Homo sapiens: one gene and its partner. The protein of the gene in region 1 interacts with the protein of each later gene in a pairwise test. Each region holds a gene or a part of one and is shown in the gene's direction. Other genes may lie near its edges.

Region 1 (6,100 bases):
GGTGAACCTTTATTACAGTTCCAGCAGCATTCAAAATACCATGCCAATTCAGACTTTTTTAAAACAAATCTCATGCAGACATTACACAGTACTCTTCAGCCTCTGACCCTTTACCCTTTAGCAGTGGATCTCACTGTTATCCTGTGACTGTGTAATTTTGAAAGTGAATGGAAACACCTGATGATGAGTCAACCAGATCTGAAGTGGATTAAAGGGACACTGTCAGGGTGCTGGCACCCTAAGTGGGCCTTATACTAAAAAGCTTCAGTTCCTGCTAAAAGCACCTTCTGATCCTTGACTACAGTGGGGTTTGATGGCATACCTCCTTCCTGTGAAACCCAAGTCAAAATCCTTTTATCGGCCTGCCTGATTCTGTATCCTTGGACGCATGGCTGCTGTGGAAGTTGGCCCAAGATGTGTTCTTCCCAGCCTGAGATATCTCGTGGATCAGACTGACCGAAGCATCTGGGAGGTGGGCTGGAACAGTCCCAAGAAGGCCGGATTGTCCTCCCCCAAAATAAAGACAGAGATCATCCGTGTTTCTTCTCCTGTACGCGAACCTGGTGGATGCTCCAAAATCGAACCAAAACACTACCATGAATAAGAGATGACTGCACTCCTCTGACACAACTTCCTATTTTTGTCTTTGTTCTTCAAAAGGTCTAAACAGTTACTAAATCCTGTTATGCTGAAGGTGGGGAAGTTAGAAAAATAGAACATCTCCTGACAGGTAGAAGACGGGATCCTTGGAGGCGTTCCTTTGGGATTTCATTTTACCTCCATCTCGTTTGTTGTCCAGTTTCCTTTTACGAGGATTAAGCAGGCATCCTGCTGGCTAGAATCCTGTGGCTTCCCTGGAGCCTCAAATTCTTGTCTAACCACATTTCTAGTCATGGTTCCTGCAGGAGACATCCACTCAAACCACCTGTTACTGAGGCACCAAGCAACCCTAGAGGCAGTTGGCCTCTGGCCCTAGCAGGAGCAGGATCTCAGGCCATCCCACCAGGCAGCCAGCCTCAGCCCCTCACCGCAGCCTTGCAGAGTGGGCTCTGCAGAGAAGCCGATTTGTGGACAGTGCCACCCTCCATCCTGAGTCACATGGCTCATGTGGTTGCAGCCATTTTTGAGCCAGGAGGGGGCCCCTTCTAGGTGCAGCTGACCTGGGAATGCTAGCCAGAGCGGCCAGAGGAGAGGAGTTGGGGGAAGGAGAGAGGTATCTCTTGCTGGCCGCGGGATCTCATCTCCTTTTGTCTTGTTTAGGTTTCTCCTCTGCCTCCTACTTAAAGGTCCATGTTAAAACCCACCACGGTGTTCCCCTTCCCCAGGTCTCCAGGCACCAGGAGCCCATCCTGAATGGGGGAGCAGCGTTCCACTGCGCCAGGACCTATGGCAACAAAGGCAAGCGACCCCTTGCTCTGCACTTTGCTTCTCTGCGCAGACTGTGTTGTGGGGGCGCTGGGCTGGGCGTGGGGAGGCGGGAAGGCTGCCGGCTTTCTGGCTGCCTTGAGGAGACTCAGAGATCTGAGTGGCAGTGGCCTCCAGGACAAAAGTCACAGTGGGTATCTCACTCCAGGGCAGTGAGTGAGGCTTTAGGGCACTGCCGAGATCCAGCCTCCGCCTCCTCTTCCCCAGCCCTCCTCCTTTCCTCCTGGCCAGCCCCCACTGTCTGGAGCCCTGCAGGGATGCCCCGGGCCCTGGGCAGAAGAAGAGCCCTGCATGATGAGTCACTATGGGCCTGTCACTGCCTGCTGCCCTTTAGGATGGTGTGGAGCTGCGGCTGAATGCTTTCTCCTCTTTTGACCCAGTGGGCCGGTGGGAGCCAATGTCTGGCTTCTCTCACAGTAGGAGTGGTTGGTTACTGTGAGTGGCCCTTTCTGGAGAGCCTCTGGCTATGGTTGTGAGATGCATGGCAATAATGAGCTATCTGACTCCTCTGACTTGGGAGTTGGTTTGCAGAAAGCTCCCCAGGCCCACCTTCACTTGTTGATTCAGGTTGTTTTGTGGTATGTCACGTTGTCGTTGCCTTGGGGATGAGGCCAGGGGCTTGGCAGATGGTAGAAACAGCAGAGATGGCATGCTCCATGCTCCCATCACAGACCTCCCTTCCCGGCATGGCTCTCTGGACCCAGGCAGGAAGCTGCTGATTGGTGGAGGACTCCAGTGTGGGCCGGGCAAGGCAGAGCAGCCAGGGTTGTCTCTTGGCCCAGCTTGTCTGGGGCCTAGGGTGGGGACACCCAGCCGACTGAGTAGTACAGAGTTGCTTTCAATCTCTGTGCTTGGGCTGCTTGGCCCTGAAAAGGTTTTGGCAGAAGGAAGGCGGTAAGGACAGGGCTATGTTTGCAGCATTAGGAAAAGGATTGGCTTCTGTCTGAGCCATTGATGGGGTCTACCCAGGTTGAGGACCTAATGGCTCTGGTTCTGCCTGTCTTGCTAGGGTGCAGCTAGTCTGGTGCAGGAGGCGAGGCTACTATTACACTGGCTCGGCATCATCAGAATACCAATTTTACCCTCAGAGGCACCCAAAAGAGCGCCTAGGAGTTGGGGGTCTTTGAGTTGTTCTGGGCAGCTGTAGCAGAGTTGCCCTCTCTGTATCCCTTCCTTGAAGCAGGCTGAGATGACGGTGAGCAGTACATGTGCAGCTGCATGAAGAGTCCACAGCAAGGGAGGCTGGCAGCCCTAGGGCCCTGCCGTTTCACCCCTGTAGGCACTCCAGGCTCCCAGACTGACCAGCTGACCCTCCGTGGGTTCTGCCAGGGCAGTGGCTGGCCAATGGCTGCCCTCCACAGGTCTGTGAGCTGGCCCCTCATGACCCCTCCAGGAGGGGGCATCTCCAGAGCCTGGCCTCATCGCTCTCCTATATTTTGTTTTTTCGTAGAAGGCCAGAAATGCTCACATCAGGATCCGATTGAGAGCTCTGACTCCTATGGTGACCTCTCAGATGCCAGCGACCTGAAGACGCCAGAGAAGCAGAGTGCCAATGGCTCTTTCTCCTGCGACATGGCAGTCCCCAAAAACAAAATGGAGTCTGATGGGGAGAAGAAGTACCCATGCCCTGAATGTGGGAGCTTCTTCCGCTCTAAGTCCTACTTGAACAAACACATCCAGAAGGTGCATGTCCGGGCTCTCGGGGGCCCCCTGGGGGACCTGGGCCCTGCCCTTGGCTCACCTTTCTCTCCTCAGCAGAACATGTCTCTCCTCGAGTCCTTTGGGTTTCAGATTGTTCAGTCGGCATTTGCGTCATCTTTAGTAGATCCTGAGGTTGACCAGCAGCCCATGGGGCCTGAAGGGAAATGAGGCAGCTGCTGTGTCCCCACGGAAACAACCATCTGGGGACTGCTGGGAAATGCTGTGAATGCGGAGGGAAGTGATGTTTGGGTTCTGTAGCTGAGAGATTTTTATTCATTTTTAACTGCCCCCCAACCCCACTCCAACTCCTTCTCCACCACCCATTCTCCCAATGGTCTTTAGAAATAGATTTTCATCTGATATTCTGCAGAAATATCAATGAGACTTGGTATGGGACAGGGGCAGAAAACACTACATAGGCCTCCAAGGCAAAACCAGTCCCAGTTTCTTTAATGGGAAGAAGCTGGAATTCCTGGTGCTCAATTCTTAGTGACCCCAATCCTATACCCAAATCTATGATATTCTGGGACCTCAGTGATTTTGGTCCCCTCCCACTTCTCTAGTTCGTCATCCTCCCTTCCCATATCCTTCAAAAGAACCACACTAGGGTCTCCACCTACTTATACAATGCGGATGCCCAACTGTTTTTAAGGAAGCCAGAAGCATCCCATGGACCATGGGGTGAGTGTCCTCCAAGAGCCCCCTGAGCTCAGCCCTCTGCCTGGAGGGCTCCAGACCTTTCTGAGCCCTGCTTGGAGGCGAGCATTTTCACTGCTAGGACAAGCTCAGCTGTTGAGGACACCCCCACCCCAAATTTCAGTTCTTACGTGATTTTAACCATTCAACATGCTGTTGGGTTTTAATTCTCTAATTATTATTATTATTGTTATTATTTTTTAGGACCAGTTGTAGTGAATTGCTACTGAAAGCTATCCCAGGTGATACAGAGCTCTTTGTAAACCGCAGTCACACATTAGGGTTAGTATTAAACTTTGTTTAGATGTACCATAATTAACTTGGCTAGTTGATTGTTTGAAGTCTATGGAAGAAATAGTTTTATGCAAAATTTTAAAAAATGCCAGTCTGGTCAGGGAAGTAGGGGGTTTCAATGCTGTTGGGAACCAGGAAGGTGGGACAGCCGGCAGGTAGGGACATTGTGTACCTCAGTTGTGTCACATGTGAGCAAGCCCAGGTTGACCTTGTGATGTGAATTGATCTGATCAGACTGTATTAAAAATGTTAGTACATTACTCTATCTGCTCCCTTGAGTCCAGTTTTTCAGCTGTGGGGGTCTTTGGGACCCAGAGGTGGGCAGTCCATACCCCAGCACCTGGGGTGGGAGTGGGATCCCAGGAGACCCCTTTTCCACTTCATTGCACCAGTTCCACTGGGATTGACAGGTAGATGGTCCCACTGAAGACTTAGAATGCCAGAATTCACCCATGTGTTCAACAAATATCCACTGCTTGTCTTCACTGCTTGTGTGCCAGGCATGGTTTCATGCTCTTGAGATATGGTGGTGAACAAGACACCACTGTGAGGCTTAATGGGATAGACAGACAACTTAAATATGAGTTCAGATAATGAGAAATACAAGGAGAAGAACTGGGCAAGGTGAGGGGACAGTGACAGCAGGAGGGTGAGTAGGGTGGACCAGGGAGGTGTGAAGTGGGGTTGGGGCTCTGGGAGGGAAGGCTTATAGAGGGGATCTGACACAGCCTACCCAGCTAGCACCTGAGGAGGGATGTGGGCAGGGACTCCTCATGGCCAAGGGGCTCTAAGAAGCTCAGCAACTTGTCTCCCCCACCATGTTATCTACCTGATGTTAAGTAAAAGGTTGGTGCACCGTTAATGGTGAATGTATGAAGAAAAGAGGGAAAGAACAACAAACAGGAGGCAAGAAGTAAGCACGATGGAGAATTAATAGGAATAAGAATGAGGAACAAGAAGGGACAGGCAGACTTAAGGCACCCTGGGCATCTTGAGAAATCTCAGGGAAGAGGGAAACCCCTAAAAGGATAGAGACAGCATTTAACCTCCAAGCAAGAAGAAAACAAAACAATGGTAAAGGAGAGAAAAACAGACCTAGGGGAACAAACAGCACAAAAATTTTTAGACCCACATTGGTATCAGAATTACATTATTTTTTGTTTTTTTGAGACGGAGTTTTGCTCTTGTTGCCCAGGCTGGAGTGCAGTGGTGTGATCTCGGCTCACTGCAACCTCCGCCTCCCAGGTCCAAGCAATTCTCCTGCCTCAGCCTCCTGAGTAACTGGAGTAACTGGGATTAAAGGCATGCACCACAATGCCTGGCTAATTTTTGTATTTTTAGTAGAGACGGGGTTTCACCACATTGGCCAGGCTGGTCTCGAACTCCTGACCTCAGGTGATCTGCCTGCCTGGGCCTCCCAAAGTGCTGGGATTACAGGCGTGAGCCACTGCACCCTGCCTAGAATTACATTGTTCTGGTGTAAAGGTAAAGACTCTCAGCTGAATTTTTTAAAAAACAATTCTAAGCCATTTACACAAAATCCTTGGTAAGCTGCTGGGCTTTGCAGACTGTGTGGAATAGAGGCTTAGGCCATTAGATGTGAGTATCAAAGGAAAGGGTGACCCTAGAATGTGGAGGCCCTGTGGACACGTAGCTTTGTGACCACCACAGAATCTGGTCACACCCACTGAGTGTTAAGAGAACCTGGCCTTGAACCAAGGACTTGACTGGGCCAGCCCGAGCTCCTGAACGCATTTTAGTTCTGCTCCCTGGAGACCTGTGAGCATGTCCATGGACAGGTAGGGACCACAGGTATTAGAAAGGAGTATCTGTCACATGGCAGGAGGGGAACAACAGAGCAAGCAGGCTGTTGCATCTTCCAAAGCACTGCTCCCTTGGCAGCCTAAGCTTTGGGAGGCTAAGGCAGGAGGATCACTTGAGGCCAGGGGTTTGAGACCAGCCTGGGCCACATAGGAAGACTCCA
Region 2 (8,028 bases), on another chromosome or scaffold:
GCTCGCTGCAACCTCCTTTTCCCAGGTTCAAATGATTCTCCTGCCTCAGCCTCCTGAGTAGATGGGACTACAGGCGCGCGCACCGCCATGCCCAGCTAATTTTTGTATTTTTAGTAGAGACGGGGTTTCACCATGTTGGCCAGGATGGTCTCAATCTCTTGACCTTGTGATCTGCCCACCTCGGCCTCCCAAAGTGCTGGGATTACAGGCGTGAGCCGCCGTACCCAGCCACCTTTGTTATTAATGAAAAGCTTTTCCCCTTCTAATTTCTTATCTGTGGATTGATAATAGTGCCATTCATTTCACTTTGAGAAATACGCAGAACTCATTGTCCAGTGGTCACTGCTTTGTTAGAGTATAAGTTATTGGCCTCAATAGTTTGTTCTCTGGTCTCCTCAGTTAAAAAGGACTTTTTTATGGGTCTAAGACAGGCTAAAGGTAGTATGTGGACTTTAATAGATACATATATCCAACGGGCAATATTTGACACTAGGCAAGCTGAAGAAAGTGTGAATTTTGAATATCTTATGTTTTGTGGAAGGTGAGGGATGAGTGCTTCCCCCCCACACACATATCAATTAGTTATTTTTGACAAAGTTAGTGTTAGTGTCATCTGGAAGCTACAGAAATTATTTAAAAAACAAAAAAACAAAAAAACTTTGGCTAGAATTGTTAGAAGCTGGCTTAGTCTGAAGGCACCCAGTACAAATTGTGTTTTAGAATGTTTTAAGAATGTTACTGATTTCGCCCCAAGCTGGCCCATGCACAGGAAGCCCTTCATGTGCACTTTGCTCCTCAAGGAAAATTAATATTTTTCCTAGATGGAACCCTATGGTGCTTATTCCCTGATCTCTTAGAGCATTTGCTGCAAAAGCCTGTTTTTGCCAGAGCTACTTTATTCCTGTAACACAGGGAGTCCTGGGATTCACATTGGCTCTCTTGGGCCAGGGAGAACTCTGGAAAGGTGACTGAGATCAGTTGCTCTGCTGGGAGTTTTGGCTTTTCATACTGAGACAGGCTTTGCACAGTGTCCAGTTCTCTTCCTTATGTCCATCAATAAGTATTTATTTATTGAGCTACTTGTGTTTGCTAAGCACTGTGCCAGGACTAGTGAGGTAAAAGGAAAAAAAAGTGGGTCCCTGTACTCAAAACAGATTCCACTCCTGGTGGGTAGGGGTGGTGGACAACGACAATGTACAGTGAAGGACAAGGAGGGTGTGAAGTGGGAACTGTGGAAATGGTCATTATAAAGCCAAAATTTTTGATTAAGCCTTGGTTACAATTAAAAGAAACAATGGTATCAAGTTGGTTGCTCTGAGAAAAATAAATCCTAGGCTAGTTACTTCCCTCAGTGGGATATGAGGAAGAAGAGGGTGGAGGTTAGGAACACTGAGCAGACAAGTGGAGAAGATCTTATTTAAATTGAAAATCACACATGTTCTCTTTTGTTTACAGGGAAGCAGGAAGTTTCATGAGACAGTCACAGTTCTTTCTGTGCCATTAAACACAAAATTCTTTGAGATAGTTATTCAGTATTAAATATATGTTTCATGTTTAATCTCCCTGGAATGAAACTTTGAACATCAGTGCATGTAAAATGTACTTTTCACTTAATTTGTAGAATTTGATTTTACTTTAATCTATTACTGCATAAATCCGCTGAGAAAAATCTCCGGCCCTTAACTGTGTTTCTGTCTTACTAGCTGAACAAGTAAAATGAATTGTGATGCTGGGGGATTAAAATCCAAACAATTTGATACCTTGTTTCTTCAGTAGAACCCTCAACAGACCTGCCCTGTGCAGTTCCCACCAGCTTCTTTGAACTGAGGCTCTGTGGCCCAGAGAGACCATTTAAATCTTGTGATAATTTTGTATTCATTCAATCCTTTTGTTTCTAAAAGTGGTAGCCATACCAAGATTCTCCAGGATCTAGTCTATCCTATTCTTAAGGGATCTTAAAACAGTGGATTGGTTGCCTAAGCATATAGTACGAAGGGTTTCCTGGTGATGCATTTGGTCTCTGAGCTGTCCAAATCTGCATGTTAGTCCACTACTCAATTTTCAGTGATCATTTTTACATTACAAATTTTAGACACATATACCTGAATTACAGATACTGCATGGAAGGGAATCTCAGTTTGGTTCCATTCGATTATCCAAGATGATGTGTTTCCTTATTCTGTTTACGTGTCATTTGAAAATCCTTGATTTAAAAAAAAAGAAGGCTGGGTGCAGTGGCTTACGCCTGTAATCCCAGCACTTTGAGAGGCTGAGGTGGGAGGATCACCTGAGGTCCGGAGTTAGAGACCAGCCTGGCCAACATGGTGAAACCCCATCTCTACTAAAAATACAAAAATTAGCTGGGTGTGGTGGTGCACACCTGTAATTCCAGCTGCTCGGGAGGCTGAGGCAGGAGAATCACTTGAACCCAGGAGGCGGAGGTTGCAGTGAGCCAAGATTGCGCCACTGCACTTCAACCTGGGTGACAAAGTGAGACTCTATCTCAGAAAAAAAGAAGAATCTTGGTGTGAAGTAGTGCTTTCTAAGGATTTGAGCATTGGATGGGATCAAGTGATGTATATAAATCCTTTCTCTACCTTGAACCACAGGAGCAACTCACCATACCTGGTACATGAATAGAAGAGTGATTTGTCTATAGAGTTGGGATAGTTTGAGACGTAACAGCTATGAAATATTTTATAGTGATTACTTACACACAAAATGTTTTCCCACTCATTAGCCCTAGCTGACCTCACCTTACTTTATTATCCACCCTGTCCTCTCCAGTGTTAGCTTCTCTCCTCATTCTTTACATGCTGACCCTTTTTATGCACAATCCTTTTTGATGGATTTGACTACATGGAACAAGCTTCCTGTGCTTATTTGCCTCACTAATTTCTTGTTGTTAAGTTGCCCCCTAAAAGTTTACTGTCTCTTGATATTCTTTTTCTAACGTTTTTACAAGGGTTAAGCCCTCCTGGTGGGTTTCTTAGAGTGTTTTAATATTTGAAATTATTTATATGCTTTAGGAAGTAGAATCCTTCCCCCTTCTCTATCAGAACAACCCAAGATTATTCTCTTAGTGTGCATTTTCTTCCACTGTACTTCAGATAAACTGAAAAACTGAAAGATTGTTTCCAAAGGTTCTTATAATACAAGGACTGGTCTAAGAGTAAATTTTTTAGTGAGTCGTCTTCAGATCACTTCAGAATTAGCAGTTATTGCCGTGATATTGGAGGGAGAAAGTTAAGGGAGCCGCCTGTCTTTAGTTGCCTTGGAGAAACTGTTTCTTCAGGGTACTAGACAAGTTTCCCAACTTAGGTGCCTCCTTTATTCCCTTTTTAAAAGAATAGCAATATGAAACTGCCGTAGCATCCTTAAAACACTGAACTACTTGCTGTCTCTGTCATTTTGGCAGCATTATCTTTAGCATTGTTTGAATGTTTTGTCTAATTCTTGTAATAAAAATAAAATGCTTGTCTAATCCTTAAAAAGATTTCTCTGAGGCTAGGCACGGTGGCTCACGCCTGTAATCCTAGCACTTTGGGAGGCCGAGGTGGGCAGATCACGAGATGAAGGGTTTGAGACCAGCCTGACCAACATGGTGAAACCCCATCTCTACTAAAAATACAAAAATTAGCTGGGCATGGTGGTGTGTGCCTGTAATCCCAGCTACTCAGGAGGCTGAGGCAGGAGAATCACTTGAACCCAAGAGGCAGAGGTTGCAGTGAGCTGAGATGGCGCCACTGCACTCCAGCCTGGGCAATGGAGCAAGACTGTGTCTCAAAAAAAAAAAAAAAAAAAAAGATTTCTCTGAGGTAATTACATTGTAGAATCCTGAACCCTTTTTTTTTTTTTTTTTTTTTTTTTGATATGGGGTCTCACTCTGTTGCCCAGGCTGGCTCACTGCAACCTCAACCTCCCGGGCTCGAGTGATCCTTCTGCCTCTCGAGTAGCTGGGACTATAGATGTGTGCCACCATGCCCAACTAATTTTTGTATTTATTGTAGAGATAGGGTTTCACCATGTTGCCCAGGCTGGTCTGAAACTCTTGGGCTCAAGCAGTTTGCCTATCTCTGCGTCCTAAAGTGCTGGGATACAAGGCGTGAGCCACTGCACCCAGCCTGTAAAATCCTAAACATTAAGGTCCTGTATCGTAGTAGTAGTAGTTGTAGTTTTAGGGGTTTTGGTATATAGTAAGTAAGATATCACATAGGCAGAATATGTATTTTGCACATTTTCCATAATACATATTCATATTGTAAATGCTTACTGTGTGATACAGTTTATGTTCTTGTCCTGTTTTCTGGCCCTTATATTTTAGAGAACTTTAACTGTTTTTTGTATATCATTGAATATTGGCTGGGCATGGTAGTCACCCCTGTAATCCCGGCACTTTGGGAGGCCGAGGCCAGTGGATCACTTGAGTCCAGGAGTTCCAGACTAGCCTGGGCAACATGGTGAAACCCTGTCTCTACAAAAAAAATTTGAAAATTAGCTGGGCATGGTTGCGCATGTCTGTAGTCCCCAGTTACTTGGGAGACTGAAGTGGGAGGATCACATGAGCCCAGGAGGTTGAAGCTGCAGTGAGTTGTAATTGCACCACTGCCCTCCAGCCTGGGTGACAAAGTGAGACCCTGTCTCAAAAAAAAAAAAAAGTCTCCTAGATACATGTCATGGTAATGCATTGGGCCTGTATGTCATTTAAGAAATAGAACTTAGTAGGGGAAAACCCCTGTTGTTATTCCCTTCCCTTTTATTTATTTTTTATTTTCTCCGATGGAAAGATGGGATTGTGTACAATGAGTTTAGAGCTTTCCTAAATCATTTATACCAATCAAGGGATTTAAATCAGTAACTCCCAATCTTTTCTGCATTTTTGTACCCACTTTCATGCTTTTCCTCTGCATTCTGTTTCTAAATAAATTTATTATTAAATAGACAAGTGAATTTTATGTAACACTTGATTTTGGAAATAGCATAAGATACTGAAAATAAGTTTTCATTAGCTTATCTTAGATGTGGTCTTTAGAAGCTGACCTTATTGATAACAGCAGCCCATGCATCTCATTATGCATTCTTTCTTTGCTTGCTTAATCACCCAGTGCTTTTTGATTCTTGCCGTTGGCTAAAGCCAGAAACTTTACAGACTATTAACAGAATCTTGAGGGGAAAAAAATGTACATAAGCATAATTAAGTGATACAGTTTCAAAAGGAGGTTTTTCTTACTTTGTTTCCTGGGGTAGGACAAGGAAGTTTTGTACATGTTTTACCAAGTATTTAACTGGATTCTAATAAACTAGAGTGAAATAGAATGAACAAAATGAAGTTTGCAGACCTACCTTTGCCAACCCCTCATCTCTTAGGACCCAGAGTTCAACAATACAGATCAGATTGACCTGTATGATGATGTGCTGACAGCCACCTCACAGCCCTCAGATGACAGAAGCAGCAGCACTGAACCACCTCCTCCTGTTCGCCAGGAGCCATCTCCCAAGCCCAACAACAAGACCCCTGCAATTCTGTATACCTACAGTGGCCTGCGTAATAGACGAGCTGCCGTTTATGTGGGCAGCTTCTCCTGGGTGAGTGTGGGTAACCAAAAATGCTTAGGGGTGGGCTGGAGGGAGAGCACTGGGAGGTGATGGCATTTTCAGAAACTACTGTTGCACTGTTTTGTGCTCTGATGGGGTTGGATTTCTTTTTCCTGGGATCAGGTTGGATTGATCTCTGAAAGAGAACTATCCTGAGGACGTACTGGTGCCGAAGAAAGCAATGATTAAGTGGGTAGTTGCTTTTTCTGCCATCTTGTTACTGCCCCTGACCCTGGGGCTTTATGTCTAGCAGGGTCATCTGAGGGACGAGATTTCAGAGTGAACACCTTGAACTCTTGGTGGTCATTAGATGGTCCTGTGATAATGGTGGGTGATGGGGATTAAAGACCTTGATAACTCTAGTATACTTGGGGTAGGTGGTGACTGTTGTTCTGCAAGTTATTTTGTGATGTTTTGGGGCTGGTGGTGGGGGTGGTTTTTCCAAATTAGGAAGTATATTTACTGTGGGGGAAGTTCTGGCAATGGTCAACTCTAGCCTGACAGATCTATAATTAAAAAATTGCTAGCTGTCAATGTTTGAACTGATGACCAGCCAGCCCAAACGGCAGTCAAAGTTACAATAAGTTTTAATCTTCGTAATCTCTAAAGATGGAGATTGGGGGTGAGTGGGTTTGGAATTCTGTATGGGTGAGGACAATAAGAAAAGTCTGCACTAATTGAAATATTGCCAGGCTTTTGAGTTTCCTCTGGGGGGACTTAGTTGTGACTAGAATCCTGGGTTTGGGACATTGGCGGGCGGGGGTGTAGCTCTTGACATCTCTTCCTTTTCCATCTTGCCGGCCCCAGTGGACCACAGACCAGCAGCTGATCCAGGTTATTCGCTCTATAGGAGTCTATGATGTGGTGGAGTTGAAATTTGCAGAGAATCGAGCAAATGGCCAGTCCAAAGGGTGAGGTCTGGATTTGAGAAGCCCCTTTTAATTTGTAACCATTGGGATAAAAGATCTGTACTATATTTTGGCCCTGGATTTTAATCACTCCCACCCCTGGCCCAGCTTACTGCCTTGGTTTTGGCAAACTGCCTTAGAAAGGGACCTAGCTGCAGTGTAGTAGAATATCCATCTGTTAAGGGGCGAAGAATACTGATTTTTAATTCCAAAAAAATAAAGATTTAGGCTGTCTCTTTGTTGTTAGTGCTGTATGTGTGTTTAGTTTAGCAAGATGTCCTTTGCTTTATCAATTTTTACTAAAAGTGGAAGAGAATTTCTTTTTTCTTCTCTTGGCTGTCTACAGATTTCATTCATTTTTAATTTTTCTTTCCTAAGGTATGCTGAGGTGGTGGTAGCCTCTGAAAACTCTGTCCACAAATTGTTGGAACTCCTACCAGGGAAAGTTCTTAATGGAGAAAAAGTGGACGTGAGGCCGGCCACCCGGCAGAACCTGTCACAGTTTGAGGCACAGGCTCGGAAACGTGAGTGTGTCCGAGTCCCAAGAGGGGGTACGTGGAGACCATCTGTATGAGGGGGGGGTGTTTGTGGGTTTGTTTTCTATGGTGTAGGCTTAGCCTACAGTGTGGGTGAGTTTGGGGGAGGGTGATGGTGGTTGTGAGTGGTGTCATGGTCGACAAGTAGTCCTCAGAATAGGTCTATATAGAAGAAAGAGCATTGTGCTGGGAGTCAAGTAGGTTCAGGTTGTAGTTTGGTTCTGCCACTGACTCGTGTGACCTTGGCCAAGTCACTTTACTACTTAGGGCCTGTTTCCCCATCTGGACTAGTGACATGATGTTTAAAGTTCCATCACCTCTAAATTCTGTGTTTCTGTCTAAAACTTGGCATTAGGTGAATGGGCTTAATTTTTAAGACATGCCTCTCTATAAATTATCAAGAAGCAGCCACCCTAAAATGTAACTAAAAGGTGCCTATAATCTTTTCATAAACGTTGATTGGAAGGATACTGTAAGGAATCAACCAAGAGGAGTGTTGGAGAATAAGACTTGAACAATATTTCTCCAGCATTGTCCAGGGGAGAGGGTGCTCTTTTGATTACCAAATGTTTTAGTCTGCTTGGCAGTTATATCCCATTAGTAAAGAAAGTTACAGGCCGGGCGCGGTGGCTCACGCCTATAATCCCAGCACTTTGAGAGGCCGAGGTGGGTGGATCACGAGGTCAAGAGTTTGAGACCAGCCTGGCCAACATGGTGAAACCCCATCTCTACTAAGAATACAAAAATTAGCCGGGTGTGGGTGACACATGCCTGTAATCCCAGCTACACGGGAGACTGAGGCAGGAGAATTGCTTGACCCCGGGAGACGGAGGTTGCTGTGAGCTGAGATCAGACCACTGCACTCCAGCCTGGGCAACAGAGCAAGACTCCATCTTGGAGGGAAAATAAAAAAGTTAGGGGCTGGGCATGGTGGCTCACACCTGTAATCCCAGTGCTTTGGAAGGCTGAGGCGGGCAGATACCTGAGGT

The links. Proteins that work in one complex are often made in the same cells at the same time.
Region 2: the proteins of PATZ1 (region 1) and CPSF7 interact in binary tests that used the Homo sapiens proteins (3 or more experiments, as listed by UniProt).

What each region holds. Positions count from the first base shown.
Region 1 is NC_000022.11:31,324,085-31,330,184, reverse strand, and holds the end of PATZ1 (POZ-, AT hook-, and zinc finger-containing protein 1 isoform long C), read left to right. Parts: intron 1-1,260; coding exon 1,261-1,398; intron 1,399-2,875; coding exon 2,876-3,294; 3' UTR 3,295-4,381; downstream 4,382-6,100. UniProt on the Homo sapiens protein: Transcriptional regulator that plays a role in many biological processes such as embryogenesis, senescence, T-cell development or neurogenesis. Interacts with the TP53 protein to control genes that are important in proliferation and in the DNA-damage response.
Region 2 is NC_000011.10:61,418,948-61,426,975, reverse strand, and holds part of CPSF7 (cleavage and polyadenylation specificity factor subunit 7), read left to right. Parts: intron 1-5,337; exon of another isoform or gene 5,338-5,367; coding exon 5,368-5,586; intron 5,587-5,718; exon of another isoform or gene 5,719-5,784; intron 5,785-5,845; exon of another isoform or gene 5,846-5,919; coding exon of another isoform or gene 5,920-5,922; intron 5,923-6,402; coding exon 6,403-6,506; intron 6,507-6,881; coding exon 6,882-7,027; coding exon of another isoform or gene 7,028-7,054; intron 7,055-8,028.